Regions from separate parts of the Homo sapiens genome. Here all the other regions are linked to region 4. Evidence: fine-mapped expression QTL. A gene starts in region 4. Each other region holds a variant in brackets. All regions are shown on one strand. Distances are from middle to middle. Region 1 holds the start of LOC102724467 (a long non-coding RNA gene). Region 2 holds the start of SLC7A5-AS1 (SLC7A5 antisense RNA 1). Region 3 overlaps CA5A (carbonic anhydrase 5A). Region 4 holds the start of SLC7A5 (solute carrier family 7 member 5).

Evidence for each region. PIP is the estimated chance that this variant, and not a neighbour inherited with it, causes the effect.
Region 1: its variant is fine-mapped to the expression of SLC7A5 in whole blood (TOPMed, PIP above 0.99).
Region 2: its variant is fine-mapped to the expression of SLC7A5 in whole blood (TOPMed, PIP above 0.99).
Region 3: its variant is fine-mapped to the expression of SLC7A5 in whole blood (TOPMed, PIP above 0.99).

The regions. Positions count from the first base shown.
Region 1 is chr16:87,778,978-87,784,643 of GRCh38, reverse strand. It overlaps LOC102724467 (a long non-coding RNA gene), which reads left to right and starts at 5,496. Exons shown (of 4, transcript NR_120309.1): 1 at 5,496-5,666. RefSeq lists enhancers at 3,791-3,890, 3,961-4,020, 4,046-4,911, 5,042-5,131, 5,462-5,561 and 1 more. The variant A/G (reference allele first, on the strand shown) is at 3,655.
Region 2 is chr16:87,834,568-87,840,291 of GRCh38, reverse strand. It overlaps SLC7A5 (solute carrier family 7 member 5), which reads left to right. Exons shown (of 10, transcript NM_003486.7): 5 at 467-590; 6 at 1,475-1,578; 7 at 2,351-2,447; 8 at 3,645-3,794; 9 at 5,701-5,724. It overlaps SLC7A5-AS1 (SLC7A5 antisense RNA 1), which reads right to left and starts at 4,027. Exons shown (of 2, transcript XR_007065175.1): 1 at 3,490-4,027; 2 at 2,605-2,879. MIR6775 (microRNA 6775) reads left to right here and starts at 5,632; the gene lies at 5,632-5,700. RefSeq lists enhancers at 2,416-3,615, 5,707-5,724 and a silencer at 5,395-5,689. The variant C/T (reference allele first, on the strand shown) is at 2,697.
Region 3 is chr16:87,890,358-87,896,081 of GRCh38, reverse strand. CA5A (carbonic anhydrase 5A) reads left to right here. Exons shown (of 7, transcript NM_001739.2): 6 at 4,128-4,283. Among named protein-coding and RNA genes, the nearest start is that of SLC7A5, 24 kb to the right of the region's middle. The variant C/G (reference allele first, on the strand shown) is at 2,992.
Region 4 is chr16:87,866,241-87,871,964 of GRCh38, reverse strand. It overlaps SLC7A5 (solute carrier family 7 member 5), which reads left to right and starts at 2,458. Exons shown (of 10, transcript NM_003486.7): 1 at 2,458-3,080. The coding sequence starts at 2,543. RefSeq lists a cis regulatory region at 95-421, enhancers at 383-1,144, 501-1,700, 1,145-1,904, 5,510-5,559 and a silencer at 2,145-2,494.

The sequences.
Region 1 (5,666 bases), 87 kb after region 4:
CAGTGGCGCGATCTTGGCTCACTGCAAGCTCTGCCTCCCGGGTTCAAGCCATTCTCCTGCCTCAGCCTCCCGAGTAGCTGGGACTACAGGCGCCCGCCACCACGCCCGGCTAATTTTTTGTATTTTTAGTAGAGACGGGGTTTCATCACGTTAGCCAGGATGGTCTCAATCTCCTGACCTCATGATCCACCCGCCTCGGCCTCCCAAAGTGCTGGGATTACAGGCTTAAGCCACCGCGCCCGGCCATGTAACCAATTAAATTTTTAACTTTTTGCCAGTTCTGCTTCTGTAAAAATTGCTTCAGCTAAAATCCTGCCTCCGCTGTTTAGACCACGGTATAAAAACAAAACTAGTCCCTTCCTCAGGGCTGAGAGAATTTTGAGCATTAGCTGCCTCTTGGTCGCTGGCTAATAAAAGACTCTTTAATTTGTCTCAAAGTGTGGCGTTTCTCTGTAACTCGCTTGGTCACAACACGACGATGGGAGGCGTGTTGGATTCTGAGTCCTGGGAGTTTGTTGTGGGTTGGCTTTATTTTGTGTATTCTTATCTGTGGATGTTTTCGGTTGGCTTGAGTGGAACCCCGTCATCCTTGCACAGTTGGATGGGCAAGCGCCTCGGGAAGGTCTCCCTTTCATTTTCTGGGTAAAGAACTCACTTTGTCGGCATCTGGATGCCACGTGGCCTGAGTCTCCTGTGACCTCTGTGCCGGTGCTTTGGCTGTGGGGGGTTGGGAGAGGCTGGAGGGTGGGTGGCACTGAACCAGCCTGGCCTGGGCACTCTGGGAGTGTGCACTTCACAGTGAGGGGTCACAGGCACAGAAGGAGCGAAGGGATGGGACTCCCAAAGAGGCTTCAATCCCCATGACTACCAAGACTCTTTTTTTTTCTGTGACGGAGTCTCGCTCTGTTGCCCAGGCTGGAGTGCAGTAGCGTAATCTCGGCTCACTGCAACCTCCCTTCCTGGGTTCAAGTGATTCTCCGGCCTCAGCCTCCCGAGTAGCTGGGATTACAGGCACGCACCACCATGCCCAGCAAATTTTTGTATTTCTGGGAGAGACAGGGTTTCACCATGTTGTCCAGGCTGGTCTCAAACTCCTGACCTCAAGTAATCCGCCTGCCTTGACTTCCCAAAGTGCTGGGATTACAGGGGTGAGCCACTGCGCCCGGCCTTTGACTACCAAGGCTCTAGATGGTTCCCATCCAGAGAACTTGGCATCTGCACATATCAGCAACGGGCGATACTGCAGCAAGACCTGCGGTTTATCCTAAGTAGTAAACGGCTGATATTTAGAATCTCGTGAGCAAATCAACTGCAGAGACAAGGGACCCATGGGGGTAAAGGGAGGGGAAGGCCAGAGTCAGGTCCATGGGGAGAGCACCAAAGGCAGCTCCCACTTCTTCAGCTTGTGAAAGGAAAATAAATCTTGGAAATCTTGTGGCCCTCAAATCACTAAGCTAAAGGGAAAAGTCAATCTGGGAGCTGCTTAAGGCAAAACTGCCTCCCATTCTATTCAGTCACACCTCTGCTCACTGAGATACATACATATCTGATGGCGTCCTTTGGAAAGGCTAATCAGAAATTTCAAAAGAATGCAACGGTTTGTCTCTCCCCGACCTGCCACCTGGAAGCCCCCCTCCCTGCTTGAGTTGTCCTGCCTCTTTGTACGGAACCAATGTACATCTTACATATATTGATTGATGTCTCCATGTCTCCCTAAAACGTGTAAAACCAAACCGTGCCCCAGCCACCTTGGGTACATGTCCTCAGGACCCCCTGAGGCTGTGTTACCGGTGGACGGTGTCCAGGTTCTTGGCATCTTGGTGTTGTCCAACAAATAATTGCACAAAATGCACAAACAAAGCAAAAAGAGTGAGGCAGCAAAAGCAGAGAGTTATTGAAAACGAAAGTACAAGGCCGGGCGCGGTGGCTCACACCTGTGATCCCAGGATTTTGGGAGGCCGAGGTGGGCGGATCACAAGGTCAGGAGATCAAGACCATCCTGGCCAACACGGTAAAACCTCGTCTCTACTAAAAAATACAAAAAATTAGCCAGGCGTTGTGGCGGGCACCTATAGTCCCAGCTACTCGGGAGGCTGAGGCAGGAGAATGGCGTGAACCTGGGAGGCGGAGCTTGCAGTGAGCTGAGATCACGCCATTGCACTCCAGCCTGGGCGACAGAGCGAGACTCCACCTCAAAAAAAAAAAAAAAAAAGAAAACGAGAAAGTACATTCCACAAGGTAGGAGTGGGCCCCAGCATAGGGGCTCAAGAAACTGGTTACAGAATTTTCTGGGATTTAAATACCCTCTAGAGGTTTCCATTGGTTGCTTGGTGTATGCCCTTTGTGAATGAAGAGGCTAAAGTGAAGTTACAAAGTCATTTACTTGGTGTACGCCCTGTGTAAATGAAGAGGATGAAGTAAAGTTACAAAGTCACTTACTCATTTGTCAATGAAATCATTTACGCTTCATTTACACAGATGCCCTATGTAAGTAAAGAGGATATTTCCTGTCATAGCTGAAGTGTTTCTATTTTATTTATTTATTTATTTTTGAGATGGAGTCTCTCCCTGTCATCCAGGCTGGTGTGCAGTGGCACGTTCTCAGCTCACTGCAACCTCCGCCTCCCAGGTTCAAGTGATTCTCCTGCCTCAGCCTCCTGAGTTGCTGGCATTACAGGCACCCACCACTACACCCAGCTAATTTTTGTATTTTTAGTAGTGACGGGGTTTCACCATGTTGTCCAGGCTGGTCTTGAACTCCTGACCTCAGGTGATCTGCCCGCCTGGCCTCCCAGAGTTCTGGGATTACAGGCGTGAGCCACTGTACCAAGCCCTTACATTTGATTTAGTCCTAGGCAGTCTCTCGGTTCCCTTCTTCCAGGATCTATTCTCCTGACTCAGCTGTGTCACAGTGCCTGTCTTTGACCTGGCAAAATAAGCTTTCTTCATTGATTGAGACCTGTCTCAGATTTTTGGGGTTCACAGGCTCCCAGGGCATTTAGGGTGCCACTGAGCACCACGACTCGGTGCGTTTCCTCCCAGCAGCAGGAGGCCACACACCTGGAGCTACACAGGGTGAGATGGGTTAGGGTCTAAAATCTCTGCATTGAAGAGTGAACCACATCTAAATGCAATGTTGTCTCCTGCGTAGGATCCTGGATGGGAACAGGAAAAGGATGTAAGTAGGAAAAGACCCAGGGAAATCCAAAGCAAGTCTGGGGTTTAGTTAATGGCAATATACCAATGTTGGTTGCTTAGTTTTGACCAATGTACCATTGTATGGAAGATGATCACTGGAGAACTTCAGGAACTATCTTAGCTGTCCTGCAAAGCTACGATTATCCCAAAAGAAAAAAATTATCAAAACAAGTAAATGAGGCTGGGCGCGGTGGCTCACACCTGTAATCTCAGCAGTTTGGGGGGCTGAGGCGGGTGGATCACTTGAGGTCAGGAGTTCAAGACTAGCCTGACCAACATGGTGAAACCCCGTCTCTACTAAAAATATAAAAATTAGCCAGGCATGGTAGTTCAGGCCTGTAATCCCAGCTACTCAGGAGGATGAGGCAGGAGAATCGCTTGAATCTGAGAGACAGAAGTTGCAGTGAGCCAAGATCGTGCCACTGCACTCCAGCCTGGGCGACAGAGTGAGACTCC[A/G]TCTCAAAAAAAAAAAAAAAAAAAAAGGAAGTGAATAAAAAGCCACAGGAAATAGCTCCCGAAGGCTGAGCCTGTGGGGAGAGGGTGAAGGACTTGTGGGCAGAGGGAGGAAGGCGTGGGTGGAGGGAGGAAGGCAGACACAGGAAAGCTAGACTGGGTGCTCCACTGAGGGACATGTGTGGTTCTCTTTGCAGGAAGCAGAGCTCAGCTCTTGCCCTCTCACATCCTTTGAAGATGACCACCTTGAAGATTAGGATGAAAAGCAAACCCTCGGCTCCTGGCCTGAGCTCTTGGCAATCATGTCTCTCACCAGGCAGGAAGCAAAAGAAGATTGTTTCTGCACTCATTTGTTTTCAGAACAGTGGAGCAAACAGTCATTTACTGGTCTCCATAGACACTGAAGAGACACCAGGTGGCGGTGACTCTGCGGGTTGCAAATGTCCCCAGCGTCAGATTCATATTATTTCCCCTGACCCCCTCTGTCCTCTGTGGATGAGGAGAGCTGGGCAGAACACCTTGGTGGGGTCTCAGGGCTCCAGCGGTGACCACTGCTGGGTCGGACCAGCAAATGGAAAGGAGCCCACGTGTGCTCTCTGTGGCCCGGGCGGTAAAGAGGAGGTGGATCCCGGGGCTGTGGGTGAGAGCAGTGGGAATACCAGGTACTATTTCTTCCCTCCATTAATCCTCCCAAAAGATTGCTATGTCTGCACCAAAGTCCCTGCTTAAAACTTTGGAACAAGAATGTAGCTTCAACGGCCAGGCGTGGTGGTTCATGCCTGTAATCCCAATGCTTTGGGAGGCCAAGGCAGGCGGATCACCTGAGGTCTGGAGTTTGAGACCAGCCTGGCCAACATGGAGAAACCCTGTCTCAGGCCGGGCACGGTGGCTCACGCCTGTAATCCCAACACTTTGGGAGGCCGAGGCGGGTGGATCACCTGAGGTCGGGAGTTTGAGGCTAGCCTGACCAACGTGGAGAAACCCCATCTCTACTAAAAATACAAAAAAATCAGCCAGATATGGTGGTGCATGCCTGTAGTCCCAGCTACTCGGGAGGCTGAGGCAGGAGAATCACTCGAACCCAGGAGGCAGAGGTTGTGGTGAGCCAAGATCATGCCATTGCACTCCAGCCTGGGCAACAAGAGTGAAACTGCGTCTCCAAAAAAAAAAAAAAAAAGAAAAAAGAAACCCTGTCTGTACTAAAAATACAAAATTAGCAGGGTGTGGTGGCGCATGCCTGTAATCCCAGCTACTTGGGAGGCTGAGGCAGGAGAATTGCTTGAACTTGGGAAGCAGAGGTTGCGGTGAGCCGAGGTCGTGGCATTGCATTCCAGCCTGGGCAACAAGAGTGAGACTCCCTCTCAAAAAAAAAAAAAAAAAAAGGAATGTAGCTTCTTGTACATTATTGACCTGGGGGTAGGGGTGAATTTGGGATTTCGGGACATTGCTTCAGAGGGCATCCTGACTCCCTCTCGGCCAGGTGAGACCTGGTGGCAGGGCCCCAGCGGCTGCCTGGGGACCAACCACCCGGCTGAGTGCCGGAGCAGCCAGCTCTGACGTCCGCGACCAGAAAGGACGCCAGATGCTTCTGTTGACGTTGACAAAGGGCTTTGCCAGGAGGCTCAGGCCCGCCTGCGGGCTGGTCCCCATCCTTCCTCTTAGACCCCGCGAGGGTGATGCAACCTTCGCATACTGCGGTTGCGAGGCTCCAAGGCCGCCTTCTGCGCGGGAGGAGTGACCCCTGGCGGCCGACGCAGACATTGCGGGCTTGGTGCTTGGACTCAACTTCTGAGCTGTGTTGCATCAGCCAACGGGCCCTAAGGAAGCTGAATAATGCCTCAGGCTTCCTGCCACCCTGCAGGCCGGGAAGTTGGCAGGTGTGGCGGGTGGGGTGAGGGGTCCGAGTCCCATGGCCTAGGACGTTCATTTCTCCGAGGCTCGGTCTCTCCTCTGGTGGGACCATGTCTCGAAGAGCCCCTGGCTTGGCTTCTGGAGCTGGCGGCCAGGTAGGAGCC
Region 2 (5,724 bases), 32 kb after region 4:
CAGGATGTGGGGCGGGTGGCTTCTGGCCGTGTGTCCTTGAGCACGGTTTCTCCAGAGAACGGGTGGCAAGTGAGGGCCCCACTCAGGGCGGGACGGTACAGAGGAGCTGCCTGGGCTCTCGGCTCTGGTCCCCGGCTGTGCAGCTCGTGGGCAGAGCCTTAGAATTCAGACCAGGTGGCCTGACTTAACTCTCCTGAGCCCTTGAGGTCACCCCGAAGAATCCCCATTTCTCAGGTGGGGAAGCTGAGGCCGCGGCCAAGGCACCAGCCAGGGCTGTGCAGTGTCCCGCTCCAGGCACAGCCTCCTGCCGCCAGCCTGTGTTCTCTTGCTGCTTCCCACCTTCCCCGAGAAGCCCAGCACAGAGGCTGGAGCTACTGCTTGCGAGGAGCCCACCTGGCTCCTGGGCACAGGGTTTGGCCTTCAGCCCGGGCTGCGTTGGGTGACATGTCGTCCCTGTTCTTTCCAGAAACCTGCCCCTGGCCATCATCATCTCCCTGCCCATCGTGACGCTGGTGTACGTGCTGACCAACCTGGCCTACTTCACCACCCTGTCCACCGAGCAGATGCTGTCGTCCGAGGCCGTGGCCGTGGTGAGCCGCTACCCGCCAGCTTCCACCAGGGGCCTGAGAGGCTGTGGCCAGCCCGTCCCTTCCAGACCGGAGTGGTGCCCCACATCTCTAAGCCTCCCCTACGCAGAGGGGGCCCCGCGTCTCTAAGCCTCCCCTACCCGGAGGGGTGGAGTGGTGGTCTCCCCTCACAGCGACCGCAGAGGAAGTGTCTGGGGATCATCCTCAAGCTCAGCTGCTGGGGGAGTCAAAGGGGAGAAGGGTTTAAAATCTGATACCAAGCCACACCCAGAACCAGCTATAAGCCAGAATGCCTGGGGAGTCCAGGGCAGAGGTCATTTTAAATCTGAGTACAGAAAGATTGGAGTCTGCCACAGAGTGGGGTTCGTTAGAAGGCACGGCTGCTGCTGGCTTGGCAGGCGGGAGGCCAGGCCCGGGCGGTGTCACCGGGCAGCTCAGCCAGGCTGGCCTCGCAGTTCCCGAGGCTTCTCCCACTGCCCTCCCAGGGCTGGGGGAACAGGGAGTGGGTGCTCTGGCCAGCTTCCTACTGAACAAGCTCTGACTCCCAGCCCGCTGCCGGCAGGGCACCGTGCTGAGCCTGTGGAGGACCCCACGGGGGAAGGCAAGATCCCCACCTGCAGGCCGTAGCTTGCTCCAGGGAGTCCCAGAGGAGGGGGCAAATCAGGACCAGCAAGGGCTCCCCAACAAGCAGGCTGGGCAGGGGTCACTGGAAAGCCCTGTCCTGGGAAGTCCCCCCAGAGGCCAGAATCCAGCCTGAGAGGTCCTCTGCAGAGGGCTCTTGTGAGCACAGAGGGCGAGGGCTGGCCCGGTGCAGAGGGCTCCCAGTGAGCACAGGGAGGGCGAGGGCCGGCCCGGTGGGGCCCAGCTCACTGGTTGTGCCTGCCTAGGACTTCGGGAACTATCACCTGGGCGTCATGTCCTGGATCATCCCCGTCTTCGTGGGCCTGTCCTGCTTCGGCTCCGTCAATGGGTCCCTGTTCACATCCTCCAGGTGAGCACAGCCCGACCCACCACAGGTGAGGGAGGCCCAGGCCTCATGGCCAGGTTCAACATGTTCCATGTCTGTAAAAGGTTTGTCTCTGTGATACTGGGGATGCATAATTGCTCAAATAGGCCAGGCATGGTGGCTCATACCTGTAATCCCAGCACTTTAGGAGGCCGAGGTGAGCAGATCGCTTGAGCTCAGGAGTTCGAGACCAGCCTGAGCAATATGGCAAAACCCCGTTTCTACAAAAATATACAAAAATTAGCCAGGCGTGGTGGCACGTGCCCGTAGTCCCAGCTACTTGGGGGGCTGAGGTCGAAGGATTGCTTGAGACCAGAAGATTGAGACTGCAGTGAGCCGAGATGGTGCCACTGCACTCCAGCCTGGGTGACAAAGTGAGACCATCTCAAAAAAAAAAAAAAAAAAAAGGCAGCAGCAAGCCCAAATAATACAGAAATAAAGGAAGCATGAACTTTGGCCCTCGCCTCCCCACTCCTGCCTGGAGGTGACACAGCTGTGGTGTCCTAGATGCCCTGTGGCCGCCGCTTGACCCCCCGGGCTGGAGTGAGCAGTGGCTCCCAAGTTGCTGTCCTTGCCGAGTTGGTTGGGGGAACTGAGAGGCCCACAGCCAGCGGCTGGAGGGGCCTGGTTCCCACTGTGGCCAGAGAGGCCCAGACAAGCCAGGCACAGGCCCTGCCACTCCCCAGCCTGCGTGTCCCCTGTCCACGTGCTGAGTTGTGGGGCGGTGGCTGACTCTGCCACTCTTGTCTGTCCACAGGCTCTTCTTCGTGGGGTCCCGGGAAGGCCACCTGCCCTCCATCCTCTCCATGATCCACCCACAGCTCCTCACCCCCGTGCCGTCCCTCGTGTTCACGGTAAGCCTGCTGCACGGCCCTGTGCCCTACATCCCTGGGGGTTGTCCGGGGGCTCCCAGAGGGAGGCTGCCACAGCTTGCAGCTCTGTCTGGGGTGTGGACTGGGTGACAGCTCAAATGTGGCCTCCTGCCGAGCTCCGCTGAATGCCAGAGAGCGCTGGAGGGGCTTTAGATTTTATTCCAAAAATAATATATGGTGGCTGCCACAAACGATTCAGACCATCGGAAATGCGGGAGGCAGAAGCTGACC[C/T]GGGGTGCTGCTCTGCCAGCCGCCTGGCTCACTGCACCTCCGTGGGCGCCCACTCTGTTCGTTTCTCAGCGGGGTGCATCACACACAGTTTCCTTCCGCTTCTCCTGCATCTTTCCGTGCCAGCCCGCGTGACTGCCTTTGTTCCCTCTGGCTGTGTCACACATCACTCCAAAATGTAGTGTTCTAAAAGGAAAAGCACTTATTATCTCACAGTTTCCGTAAGTCAGGAATTCAGGGAGCTGGTGCCTGAAGCTGTGTTCTCATCGTAGGGTGTGACCAGGGCTGGAGAGGCCACTCCACAGTGGCTTCCTCCAGGGCTGTGGGCTGCAGGCCCCACCCCTGAGCACACTGGGCTCCCCCAACAGGCTGCTTCCCCCAAAGCCAGTGAGATACAGCAGAGGAAGCTGGGGTCTGGCAGCTGTGGGCTGGCCTCAGAGGTCCTGGCCCTTGCTTACTACTCCTTCCCTGAGTTAGAAGCCAGTCAGGAAGGGCAGCAAGTCCTGGACTCTTTGGCAGCTGCACGGTCCTCGGGAGCACGGCTGTGCCGGGGGTTACAGAAACTGTTTTCTTGGTGACCACTGGGTTAGGTCAGGTTGTGGCCCTCGCACACAGAGCCACAGTCCAGCAGAGCCCAGCTGTGTATGTACACTGTGTTCTTCACCTGTCCTTAACCCAAATGTGGTCTCCATTTCCTCCTCTCCTCCCTCCTTCCCTCCTCTCCTCCCTCCTTCCCTCCTCCCCGCCTCTTCCCTCCTCCTCTCCTCCCTCCTTCCCTCCTTTCCTCCTTCAAGACCTTGCATGTTGCTCAGATGAGGTTTCTCCTTTAAAACAAAATTCCCTGGTGCTCAGCTGGGCCCAGCCAGGCTGGACAGTCCCCGGTGGCCACCACGGCCGTCCACAGCCCTGCTCGTGGGCCCCAGGGCTCAGCCAGCCGCCTCTCTCTTCCAGTGTGTGATGACGCTGCTCTACGCCTTCTCCAAGGACATCTTCTCCGTCATCAACTTCTTCAGCTTCTTCAACTGGCTCTGCGTGGCCCTGGCCATCATCGGCATGATCTGGCTGCGCCACAGAAAGCCTGAGCTTGAGCGGCCCATCAAGGTGAGCCCGGGGCCTCCCGCTCACCCAGGCACCCTTCACAGAGGCAGGGTCCGTGGGTCCTAAGGACCCTGAGTTGGGAGCCAGCATCCCAGCTCAGCCTCTGGACCTGCCCCTGCCTGCATGCACCTGGGTCGACTAATTCCGGTGATGACTTGACCACCAGCTACGAGGGTGCCAAGTGTGACTGCAGGAGCCGGGGTTCCTCAAAGGACAGCAGATGGCACAGAGCTTGTGCTCCGTTGGGTGGAGGGAAGCAGATAAGGACACTGCAGTCATAGGTGGGCGGTGGTGAGCCCCGGCAGGGGCGGGGCAGAGCCGGGCCTGGCGCAGCATTCAAAGGGCCGTCGGGGCTGTGCTGGCAGGAGGAATGCAGGGAACCCGGCCCGAGGAGCGCCTGGGCCCAGCTGGACTCTCCTGGACTCTCCCCGTCCCCAGCGGCTCATTCAGAGGGGTAGCTGTTATCCGTGGGCTGCCTTCTCCAAAAACGGGGCCGTCCAGCAGAGGCCATGCTCTTGCCTGGGGCCCAGCAAGTCCCGCCGCCCTGGCCCTGACACAGAACAAGAGGCCAGAGCCCCTGGTGGCTGCTAGCCAGCAGCTTTTGTCACTCAGCTGGCCTATGGCTGTCACAGTAGCCCCTGCTTCCCTGCCCGGACCATCTCTCCCTCTGTGTTCCCGAAGCCTGGGGGCCCCGGGGGTGCCTGTGAATGCTGTTGAACGGGCTTTAGGCTGGGCGCGGTGGCTCACGCCTGTAATCCCAGCACTTTGGGAGGCCGAGGCGGGCAGATCACAAAGTCAGGAGATAGAGACCATCCTGGCTAACACGGTGAAACCCCGTCTCTACTAAAAATACAAAAAAATTAGCTGGGCGTGGTGGCGGGCGCCTATAGTTGCAGCTACTCGGGAGGTGGAGGCAGGAGAATGGCATGAACCTGGGAGGCCGAGGTCGCGCCACTGTACTCCAGCCTGGACGACAGAGTGAGACTCCGTCTCAAACAAACAAAAAAAACAGGGGCTTTAAAATACAGTCAGCACAAGAACCCAGATGCTGCCCCAAGAGAAGGCTGCAGAGGGCAGGGAGGAGCCGCCCTACATGGGCACCAGCTTGTGCCTGCTGTGCCAGCCTGGGGCAGTGCCTAGGGCACAGGGCAGTCACTGCGCACAGCGGGGGCTCAGCCCCCATGGGGACCTGGGCATGGGGTAGGCTCTACCCACTGTTGTGAGCCTGGGCACGGGTTGGCGTCTGTTCCCTGGGGACAGGGCAGTCATGCAGCCCACACTGATGGGCTGGGACCTGTGGTCAGCCCTGCATCTCCCAGGGTGCCCTGTCCAAGTATGGATTCAGGACAGCTGAGTCAATCCCCCAGCCATGCCGAGCCGCAGGTTGCGGCCTGCAGGCTCCTTGCAGCCCTGCCTGGCTTCTGTGCCGGGTGGAGCTCATCTGCTGAAGGTGACAGTTTAGGCTGCAGCTTCAGGGATGGGCTTTTGCTCAGCGCTGTCCACAGCGGCGTCTCCAAGAGGGTGGTCTCCTGGCTTATTAGTGGGTGGCCACTGTCTCCTGGAAGCATCAGGCCCCTGTGCGTCCTGGCGGCTCAGGGTTTCCAGGCCTGTGATGTGGGAATGGAGCCGTGACCTTCCCTGCCCGTGGGAGGCCTCGGGAGACGAAGCTGTCTCCTTCCATCCCTCATCATAAGCCGCCTGAGCCCCTGGCAACATGCCCAGCACTGTATGCAGAGTCGAGGGCGGGACAGCCCGGTGTGTGAGGCAGATGGAGTGCAGATCGCATCTTGGTGACCTGGAAGTCAGCAGCCGTGGGTGTGGAGGGCCCAGGAGGGCTGAGGAACCTCGGGGCATGGGGGAGGGAGGCTGGACAGGAGAGGGCTCACCCAGGCCCTGTCCTCTGCCCCAGGTGAACCTGGCCCTGCCTGTGTTC
Region 3 (5,724 bases), 24 kb before region 4:
TGCTCAGAAAGTGACTGGCACATCTGTGCCCTGGGGATGTGTGGCAGGCAGGAGGAGACGGACGTCTCACTGCACACCCGCCTGTTACCCACGTGCACCAGACTGATGTCTCACTGCACACCCGCCTGTTACCCACATGCACAAGCAGTCTGCTCCTTCACAGCCCAGCTAGAGCGTGCAATGGGATGTCAACCCAGCTAGACCATGCAGTGAGATATTACTTGGCAATCAGAAAGGACACAGCTCTAACTCATGCTGCGGTGTGGGTGAGCCTCAAAAGCGCCGTGCTGAGTGAGAGACACAAGACACAAATGTTCCACATGTTACATGACTCAGTTCCTATGAAACCCACAGAGACAGAAGCAGCAGGGCGGGGGTGGGGACCATAGCTAAAAAGTACCAAGCTTCCCCCTTGAGGTGGAAGTTCTAAAATTGACTTGGGATGGCTGCACAACTGTGAATATACCCAAAACCATAGAACTGTACCCTTCAATTTTTATTTACTTTTTTTGTTTTTTGTTTTTTGTTTTCTTTTTGAGATGGAGTTTCACTCTTGTTGCCCAGGCTGGAGTGCAATGGCATGAGCTCAGCTCACTGCAACCTCTGCCTCCCGGGTTTAAGTGATTCTCCTGCCTCAGCCTCCCGAGTAGCTGGGATTACAGGCATGCGCCACCACGCCTGGCTAATTTTGTATTTTTAGTAGAGACATGGTTTCGCCATGTTGGTCAGGCTGGTCTCGAACTCCTGACCTCAGGTGATCCATCCGCCTCGGCCTCCCAAAGTGCTGGGATTACAGGCGTGAGCCACCGTGCCCAGCCTATTTACTTATTTTAAGAAAGGATCTCACTCCGTCACCGAGGCTAGAGTGCAGTGGTATGATCACAGCTCACTGCAGCCTCAACCTCCGGGGCTCAAGCCATCCTCCCACCTCAGCCTCCCAACTACCTGGGACCACAGGCGTGCACCACTGCACCTGGCTAGTTTTTGTATTTTTTGTAGAGTCAGGGTCTCGTTATGTTGCTTAGGCTGGTCTCAAACTCCTGGCCTCAAGCAGTCCTCCCACATCGGCCTCCCAAAGTGCTGGGATTACAGACATGATCCATTGCGCCCAACCAGGCTGTACACTTTAGATGGGAGAGTTGCATGGTATGTGAATTCTATCACAATAATGCTGTGGGTTTTGCTGCTGCTGCTGTTGTTTGAGACAGAGTCTCTCTCTCTGTTGCCCAGGCTGGAGTGCAATGGTGCCATCTCGGCTCACTGCAACCTCTGCATCCTGTGCCAAAGCAGTTCCTGTGTCTCAGTCTCCCGAGCAGCTGCGATGACAGGCACCTGCCACCATGCCTGGCTAATTTTTGTATTTTTAGTAGAGATGGGGTTTCGCCATGTTGGTCAGGCTGGTCTTGAACTCCTGACTTCAGGTGATCTGCCTGCCTTGGCCTCCCAAAATGCTGCGATTACAGGCATGAGCCACTGTGCCCAGCCTATAATGCTGTTTTTTTTTTTTTAATTAACTGGATAATTATAAACGTGAACATGCGTGCATAGAACTGATGCATGTGTCTGCCAGTGTGGACACTCCCGGGCTTCCTTCTGGTAGCTCAGCCACCTCTCTTGACCCTGACCCTCACTGCTTGATGTTAGGAGACAAGCCCAAGGCATCTGGGTTGCCAGCTTCCACCTTGGAAGGCCAGGGCCCAGCAAAGTCAAGGTGATGTGATGTGGCTGAGCAGGGAGGCCATCTTCCTTGCAGACAGGGACTCTGTCACTTTGGACTGGACTCTTGTCCCACAGTGCTGGCCAGGGGCAGGTGCAGAGCTATGCTTGGTTGGCATGGGACGCTGATGAGGGCTGTGTTGCGGCCAGGCCCAACCACCGTGAGCTGAGATCATGCCACGGCACTCCAGCCTGGAAGACAGAGTGAGACTCTGCCTCAAAAAAAATAAAAAAAATAAAAAGTTATAAATAGAACTACCCTATGATTCAGCAATCACACACTTCTGGGTATATATCCAAAAGAGCTGGCTGGGCACAGTGGCTTATGCCTGTAATCCCAATATTTTGAGAAGCCAAGGCAGGAGGATCGCTTGAGCCCAGGAGTTGGAGAACAGCTTGGGCAAGATGGCAAGACCCCCTGGCTACAAACAATTAATTTTAAACCCTGGTGTGGTGTCCTAGCTACTTGGGAAACTGAGGCGGGGGGATCGCTTGAGCCCAGGAATTAGAGCCTGCAGTGAGCTATGATGGCATCATTGCACTCCTGCCTGGGTGACAAAGTAAGACCCTGACTCTTTTTGTTTTTTGGCTGTGAGTGTATTCAATGCAAAATAATCCTCTCTGATTTTACTGAGGTAGCTGGCCATGTCCACGACCAAATCTGCCTTTAAACTGGAATTCGGTTGCTGACCCAGCCCGAGCCTCGGCTATCTTGTCGGCACCAGGGGCACAGCACTCCGTCTGTAGGTATGTCTGTCAGCTTCCCCTCTTGTGAGTCTTGCAGGTCGCCCACCCTCCAGACCTTTAGGCCGAGGCCTGCCAGTCCCTGGACGGCTGCAGCATAGGGTGGCAGGCACAGTTTCCAGGGACAGATGAAGGTAATCACGGAGATACTGGATGCCCTCATTGGTAAGGTAGCAGTAGAAATGTCTCCAGGCAAGCCGGGCGTGGTGGCTCACGCCTGTAATCCCAACACTTTGGGAGGCCGAGGTGGGCAGATCACGAGGTCAGGAGATCGAGACCATCCTGACTAATATGGTGAAACCCCGTCTCTACTAAAAATATAAAAAATTAGCTGGTCGCGATGGCGTGAAGATGTAGTCCCAGCTACTAGGGAGGCTGAGGCAGGAGGATCGCTGGAACCCAGGAAGCAGAGGCTGCAGTGAGCTGAGATCGCACCACTGCACTCCAGCCTGGAGACTCTGTCTGAAAAAAAAAAGAAAGAAAGAAAGAAAGAAAGGAAGAAAGAAAGAAATGTCTCTAGGCAAACTGTTC[C/G]TTCAGGCAGCCTCGGGGCTTGAGAGACTGCATGGCCTTCGTGACATGAAGGTTGGGCACATTCTTGTCTGCCATCTCCGGGTGCTTAGGCATGTGGACATCCTTCTTGGCCACCATGACTCCCTCCTTAAAAAGGAGCCCATAGGCCGGGCACAGTGGCTCACCCCAGCACTTTGGGAGGCCAAGGCGGGTGGATCATCCGAGGTCAGGAGTTCAAGACCAGCCTGGCTAACATGGTGAGACCCTGTCTCTACTAAAAATACAAAAATTAGCTGGGCGTGGTGGCAGGCGCTGGAGGCTGAGGCAGGAGAATCGCTTGAACCTGGGAGGCAGAGGTTGCGGTGAGCCAAGATCACACCATTGCACTCCAGCCTGGGCAACAAGAGCAAAACTCCATCTCGAAAAAAAAAAAAAAAAGGTTAAGATGGTAAATTTTATGTTATGTATATTTTATCACAATAAAAAGTAATATTTTTTGCAGCCAAGGTATGCTAAAAGAAATGGCTTTATTTTTATTTTTATTATTAATTAATTTATTATTATTATTATTATTATTATTATTATTATTATTATTATTATTTGAGACAGAGTCTCACTCTGTTGCCCAGGCTGGAGTGCAGTGGCATGATCTCGGCTCACTGCAACCTCTGCCTCCTGGGCTCAAGCGATTCTCCTGCCTCAGCCTCCTGAGTAGCTGGGACTACAGGCGCCCACCACCACATCTGGATAATTTTTGTATTTTTAGTAGAGACAGGGTTTCACCACGTTGACCAGGCTGGTCTCGAACTCCTGACCTCAAGTGATGCACCCGCCTCGGCCTCCCAAAGTGCTGAGATTACAGGGGTGAGCTACTGCGCCCCAAGAAATGACTTCAAAAGGAAAAATGTGAGCACCAACGTAAGCTGGTGTAATGTAACGTAATTCCCACCAATGTAAGTTGGCAGGAATCCTTGCTCTGTATAGAAGGGTCACATTTTCTCATCACTGCTTGCAAGTGTGACAGCAGTGGCCTCATGGCCTTATCTGGGGGAAAGCACTTCCTTCCAAGCACCATGAAGGCCTCACGTGCTGAGACAAGATGGAAGCTCCTAGTCTCCCCTGAGGACTGACACGTCCTGTGCTTCTCGGTCTCTCAGGACGCGCGGGCGGCCATGCGCCCCTTCGACCCCTCCACTCTGCTGCCCACCTGCTGGGATTACTGGACCTACGCGGGCTCGCTCACCACCCCGCCGCTGACCGAGTCGGTCACCTGGATCATCCAGAAGGAGCCCGTTGAAGTGGCCCCAAGCCAGGTGAGCCGTGCCCGTAACTGGCACGATGGCGCTTCATGGAAGGCGTCCCTCTTGCTTGGCAGCGTCACTAAGATGCTGCATGAGAGCGTTGTGGAGTTATATATATTCTTTCATGCATTTGGGGCATTCTTACACAAGAAGAAAATTCCAACTGAAGTAGGAGCTTGTTGAGATTGGACAGCGGTTCCAGTGATCACAGCAAGCATGTCCTGAGCAACGCCCTAATCTATCACACACAGACACACGAGGCATCCATGGGAGTTGTCCCAGGGTCATGGGTCTGCATGGTTTTTGTTTTCTTCCTTTTTCTTTTCTTTCCTTTTTTTTTTTTGAGACAGAGTCTCGTTCTATCGCCCAGGCTGGAGTGCAGTGGTGCGATCTCGGCTCACTACAACCTCCACCTCCTGGGTTCAAGCGATTCTCCTGCCTCAGCCTCCCAAATAGCTGGGATTACAGGCACCCATCACCACGCCTGGCTAATTTTTGTATTTTTAGTAGAGACGGAGTTTCACCATGTTGGCCAGGCTGGTCTTGAACTCTTGACCTCAGGTGATCTGCCCACCTTGGCCTCCCAAAGCGCTGGGATTCCAGGCATAAGCCACCGAGCCCGGCCTCCTTTTTCTTATCTAAATAGTTTCATTGCTTTTTTTTTTTTCGAAAATTAATTAATAATATTTGTATACACTTTTTAAAGTTATACTCTTGGGCTGGGCGTCATGGCTCATGCCCATAATTTTAGGACTTAAAGAGGCCAAGGCAGCCAGATCACTTGAGGCCAGGAGTTCGAGACCAGCCTGACCAACATGGTGAAACCCCGTCTCTACTAAATCTACAAAATTAGCCAGGCGTGGTGGTGCATGCCTGTAATATCAGCTACTTGGGAGGCTGGGGCAAGAGAATAACTTGAAGCCGGGAGGCAGAGGCTGCAGTGAGCTGAGATCACGCCACTGCACTCCAGCCTGGACAACAAGAGCAAAACTCCATCTCAAATAAATAAATAAATAAAAATACAAAAATTAGCCAGGCATGGTGGCGTTTGCCTGTAATCCCAGCTACTTGGGAGGCTGAGGTAGGAGAATCACTTGAACCTGGAAGGCGGAGGTTGCAGTGAGCTGAGATGGCACCACTGCACTCCAACCTGGGTGACAGAGTGACACTCTGCCTCAAAAAAATAAAATAAAAAATAAATAAAAGTTATACTATCATTTTTTTCTGGAAATCTTAAGAATCTGTAGCAATTCTGTCTGTCCAAGGCAGTTCAGAGCCACAGACGTGCTGCCTATGCCCCGCCCCCGCCCGGCAGACGTTTCTCAGCAGTCGCAGCGCGACTTAGCATCTCTGGCTCATCTCTTTCCGAGGGCTCCAGGTGAGCTCTTAGAGGGTCTTTCAGTCTCCCGGGCCTGTGAAAATATTCCCTTATATACAAACGGGGAAGGCTTTT
Region 4 (5,724 bases):
AGTGAGACTCCGTTTCAAAAAAAAAAAAAAGAAAAGAAAGTATTCTCCCAACCAGCTCAAGCGAGAGTGCCACAACTTTTTTTTCTTTTCTTTCTTTCTTTTTTTTAACCTCTGAAAATACACAACATGTGATAAATTACTGACTGGAGCTGAAAAGACCATTGTCCTGCCTCTGTAAAAATCAAAACGCTGCCGAATCTTTCCAACAGATGGCACTCTTTGCTAAGATTCTAGAGTCATAGCTTTCAGGCGAAGGCGTTTCAGGGCCGGCATCAGGGACGTCTGAGAGGAGTAGATTTGCTGGATAAATCTAGAATGTTGTCATATGAAAACCCAGTAAAAACCGACAGAGGTGGCGTAATAGCTGTGTGACTTGAACACGCTCATGGCTGTTGTCACCCTTCCTGCTTAAGGGCTCCAGCACTTGCCAGGAGCCTGGCTCTGGGGGCACCAACCATGACTTGCACCAACTGTGCAGGGCCCCCTCTGTGCCGGTGGGGACCCCTGCACCTCCCTTATTAATTCTCACTCACCCTGGGCTCTCAGCTCCAGGTACCACCTCAGAAAAGTCTATCTGGACCTGCCTGGTCCCTGTCGCTGTCGCTGGCTCACCCTGTCATGTCCTTGGCTTATCATGGTTGTAATTTTATGCTTTGGGGTATGACTGTTGGTTGCCTTTCTTGTTACTCAAAGAAGAATGGTGGAATGATTAAAAGTACCATATAAGTTCAGAGTCAAAAGGACAGCTCCCAGGCTACTTGCTGGCCGGACAAGCGAGGTAACCCTACCAAGCCTCAGCTTCCTTATTTGCAAAATGGCTCTAACTGGCACCTACCCTATTGCATAAGAAGCTGTCTAGGGGAGGACTCAGTGAGCACTCGGTGAGTTTGCCCAGCCATGGTGGTACTGTCTCCTTCCCTCTGCAGGCACAGCGGGAAGAATAGGGCAGATGGAGGGGTCTCTGCACCTTCCACAGCCAGCAATGTGGACGGCAGATTACAAGTTAGTATCTGTGTGACCTCCGCACTCCCCCGCCTGTGGCTGCCTGGGCTGCTGAGATTTCGCTCGGTTTTATCACCGCAGAGGAATGCCCGACATACCGGGGGGCGAGCAAGGTCCAGAATGACAAGCCCTGGCATTCCTCAGCCGCCCCCTCCCTGGGGTGGGGCCTGGACATTCCTGGCTGCAGCTAGAGGTCCCAGCACGACAGGGATTCTGACCCCCCTCCACCACGGCTATTGTTCAGAATTCTGTGGATTCCAGAGGCATCTGCCCAGCAGACTGTCTTGCTGTGAACACCCAGCTCTGCAACCGGTGTTTGCGTGTTTGCCCTGGGAGGCTGAACGCTCACCCAGAACAAAGGCCTCCCCACATGCCTGCTGTGAGCTTCCAAGGACTCGTTTGCACACACGCCAAGGAACCCCGGGGTGGGGTGATACTGAGGAGCTTCCTCCCTGACCCACACACACCCTTTGAACAGGTCTTTGGCCGCTCACCAGTCTGGTCAATCTCGGGGCAGTATTTATATTCCTTCCCATTTCCAGGCCTAGGAGCCTTGGCATCCTGCTCTCGCCTCTAACTGAAATTACCTCTCAACCCTTTTTAGCTAAGATGCCTCTCGCATTCCCTAGGAATAACAAGCTTTAAAGCCCCTTCACACTGAAGCCTGCCTTTGAATTCCCCAGGTAGATTTGGGGGTGGGGGTCTTATGGCTCCCAGCGAACCCCCGGTTCTGTTGATTAAATTGAGCTCAGGCAGATTGCTGGCTTCCCAAAGCCTGTGTTATTACTGCTTCTCAAAGCTACGGGCACCGGATCGCCGTCTTTGGCAAGATTCTTTTGGGATACAATGGGAATTACTGGGTGGCCTCGGTTCGGTTCTTCCCTCGTCCCAGTTCGCGGCTCACCAGCCCCACTGATGCAGCCCCCAGGCTGGAAGGAGGCTGCAGGAGCTTCCCCTCAGGTCATCCTCTCATCCCTCCCCCGTGCCCCAGGAGCTGGTTGTGGGGGCGGTTCCATCCCCTCGGCCCATCCGGGACAGGAGCCTAGGTTCCCTTCGGGGGGTACCCCAAACTCCATCCTTGGCCTCAGGCCAGCCCTGGTGCACTGCCCGCTCCCAGGCTTGACGAGAGGCTGCGGGCCAGTGGGTGAAGGGGCGCGCCCTGACTGCCAGGCCCCGCCCAGGCGCATCCGGGAGGACGGGCTGGGATGACGCGGGCGCCGGGAGGGGGGAGGTCGCGAGGCCGGGGTCTCCATGGCGCAGGAGGACTGGGGCCTTCGAGGACCACGCGGGCCTGGGAATAGCCCGCCAGGCTGGGCCGGACGACGCACGTGCTCCGAGCTGGGCCGAGGGGGCGGGGCTGAGGGACGGGGCCGGGCCACGGGGCGGGGAGGAGCCGCGGACGGTGGGCGGGGCCGGCGGGCCGGGGCCTAAAAGGCGGCGCGGGCGGGGTTCCTGACGCAGCTGCGGGCGGCGGGCGGCGCGCACACTGCTCGCTGGGCCGCGGCTCCCGGGTGTCCCAGGCCCGGCCGGTGCGCAGAGCATGGCGGGTGCGGGCCCGAAGCGGCGCGCGCTAGCGGCGCCGGCGGCCGAGGAGAAGGAAGAGGCGCGGGAGAAGATGCTGGCCGCCAAGAGCGCGGACGGCTCGGCGCCGGCAGGCGAGGGCGAGGGCGTGACCCTGCAGCGGAACATCACGCTGCTCAACGGCGTGGCCATCATCGTGGGGACCATTATCGGCTCGGGCATCTTCGTGACGCCCACGGGCGTGCTCAAGGAGGCAGGCTCGCCGGGGCTGGCGCTGGTGGTGTGGGCCGCGTGCGGCGTCTTCTCCATCGTGGGCGCGCTCTGCTACGCGGAGCTCGGCACCACCATCTCCAAATCGGGCGGCGACTACGCCTACATGCTGGAGGTCTACGGCTCGCTGCCCGCCTTCCTCAAGCTCTGGATCGAGCTGCTCATCATCCGGCCTTCATCGCAGTACATCGTGGCCCTGGTCTTCGCCACCTACCTGCTCAAGCCGCTCTTCCCCACCTGCCCGGTGCCCGAGGAGGCAGCCAAGCTCGTGGCCTGCCTCTGCGTGCGTGAGTACGGGGCGCGGGCCGGGGGTTGGGAGGTCGTAGTCTCTGGGTCCCTGCATCCTTGCATCACTACGCCCCTGGCTCCCACATCTCTACATCTTTACGTTCCTGGACCATCCCGGCAGTTCTAGGCTAAGGTCATTGGTCCCAGAAACCACGTGCGTTTCTTTCATTCATTCTTTTACACTTCTCCCCACAGGCTGGGAATATCTTCAGTGACGGGACAGCAGGGTCCCTGCCCTGCCCTTCGGTGGGCATTCCATTCCCCCACTTAAGCGGTTTAGGCAAGTGCCACCCTCCCGTTGGCCCCGCTGAGCAATACTCCCAGCCTCTTGCGTGGCACCCACGTGGAGTAACTGAGCAATCGGTTTACTGTTAGAGCTCCGATTGCTGACTGGTTGGTGAGAAGGAAATTGCAGTTAAAAAAAAAATCATTCATTTCTGCTCTCCACACCAGCTCGTCAGGAATCAGTGACACGGGCTGACTCATAAGAAAACAGTAGTAATAACATCGTGTGCGGGTAGTGACTGGTGCTGATTTAGGCTAAGGGATCCCCCCTGAGGGTTCCCAGTAGTGAGAGAGCGGAGCTTGGCTGCAGATTCAGTCTGTGTTGCAGTGAATGGACGTGCGGGTCCCAGGTTTCTCTGGGAAACAGCCATGGGGCTCCTGTTTTGGTGGGCATGGTGCTGGTGTGTTCTTCACCAGGCCAGAGATAACTGCTTTTCAAAATAGTTTTCTTTTTCTTTTTCTTTCTTTTTTTTTTTTTTTTTTGACACTGAGTCCCGCTCAGTCGCCCAGGCTGGAGTACAGTGGCACGATCTCGGCTCACCGCAAGCCCGCCTCCCAGGTTCATGCCATTCTCCTGGCTCAGCCTCCCGAGTAGCTGGGACTACAGGTGCCCGCCACTACGCCCGGGTAATTTTTTTTGTATTTTTAGTAGAGACGGCGTTTCACCGTGTTAGCCAGGATGGTCTCGATCTCCTGACCTTGTGATCCGCCCGCCTCGGCCTCCCAAAGTGCTGGGATTACAGGCGTGAGCCACCGTGCCCGGCCTCAAAATAGTTTTCTTGTGGGATTTCAGGGGGAAAATCACTTGTAGCAGATGCCACATGATTTGGTTGGGTGGCGTGGGAAGGTGGGTCTTGGCAATTCTCAGATTCATCCCATGGCATGGATCGGCCTGCATCTCAATAGTGTGTGTACACATTCAAGGTGGGAAGGGCTAATTTATAGTTGGGGTCTTGAGCCATGAAATCAGGGGAGTGGCTTCTGACTGGCAGGACCTGTTGGCGCTGTTTTCTGCCACACCGTACTTTGGGGGGGAGGGGGAGGGGGAGGCATTTCTTCATAAATGTGAGAATGCCCCGAGGGCAAGACTCAGCAGGGCTCTGTGTGGTTTCTCTGAGGCTCTGAGTCGAGCAGCCGCACCACCATGCAGGTCAAAGCCGGGAAAAATCGTAGCAGGACAGCAGTGGGGAGAGCCTGTGCCTTCCAGCTGGGCGTTGGAGATGTGAATGTAGGGGATGACTCTGATTTCTTTTTTTGTCATTAGAATTTCACTGGTTCAGTCTCCCTCCCGCCTAGGTACATGTCGGCCCGGTATGTAACGACATGGATAGTAGCTTACGCAGCCTGCACTCTTATCTTTAAAAAATGAACCCCTGGTTGGCTGGGTGTGATGGCCCACGCCTATAATCCCAGCACTTTGGGAGGCCGAGACGGGCGGATCTACCGAGGTCAGGAGTTCGAGACCAGCCTGACCAACATGGTGAAACCCCATCTCTACTAAAAATACAAAAATTAGCCGGGCAGAGTGGCTCACGCCTGTAATCCCAGCTGCTTATGAGTCTGAGGCATGCTCCGGGATGTGGAGGTTGCAGTGAGTTGAGATCCCGCCACTGCACTCCAGTCTGGGTGACAGAGCAAGCCTGTCTCAAAAAAAAAAAAGCAGCCCCTGGGTGCTGAGTCTCTGACTTCCTGCTGGTGCCAGGAGTGAGTCGTGGGAAATGCTTCATTGGCCACCAGGAAGGAGACGTAGGATGGGGCGCTGCCTAGTTTTCTCTTTCTAATAAAAATCACATCAGTCATACATGAATTCATCATCATTTAAAAATTCAAACCAGCCAGGCACTGTGGCTCACACCTGTAATCCCAGCACTTGGGAGGCCGAGGCAGGCGGATCACCTGAAGTCAGGAGTTCGAGACCAGCCTGGCCAACATGGTGAAACCCCATCTCTACTAAAAATACAAAAAATTAGCTGGGTGTGGTGGCAGATGCCTGTAATCCCAGCTACTCGGGAGGCTGAGGCAGGAGAATCACTAGAACCCAGGAGGTGGAGGTTGCAGTGAGCTGAGATCGCACCACTGCACTCCAGCCTGGGCAACAAGGCGAAACTCCATCTCAAAAAAAAAGCAAAAATCAGCTGGGCGTCATGGCGCACACCTGTAGTCCCAGCTACTCGGAGGCTGAGGCAGGAGAACTGCTTGAACCAAGCATGGTGCCACTGAGCTCCTGCCTGGGTGACACATTTCTCCTCCTTTACCACCCCCGACCCCCAGAGTTTCTGCGGCTGACAGTGTATGCTTCCGGAGCTGCTTCTGTTACAAATATATCGCTGGCCTATTTATTTAAAAGATCATAATGTA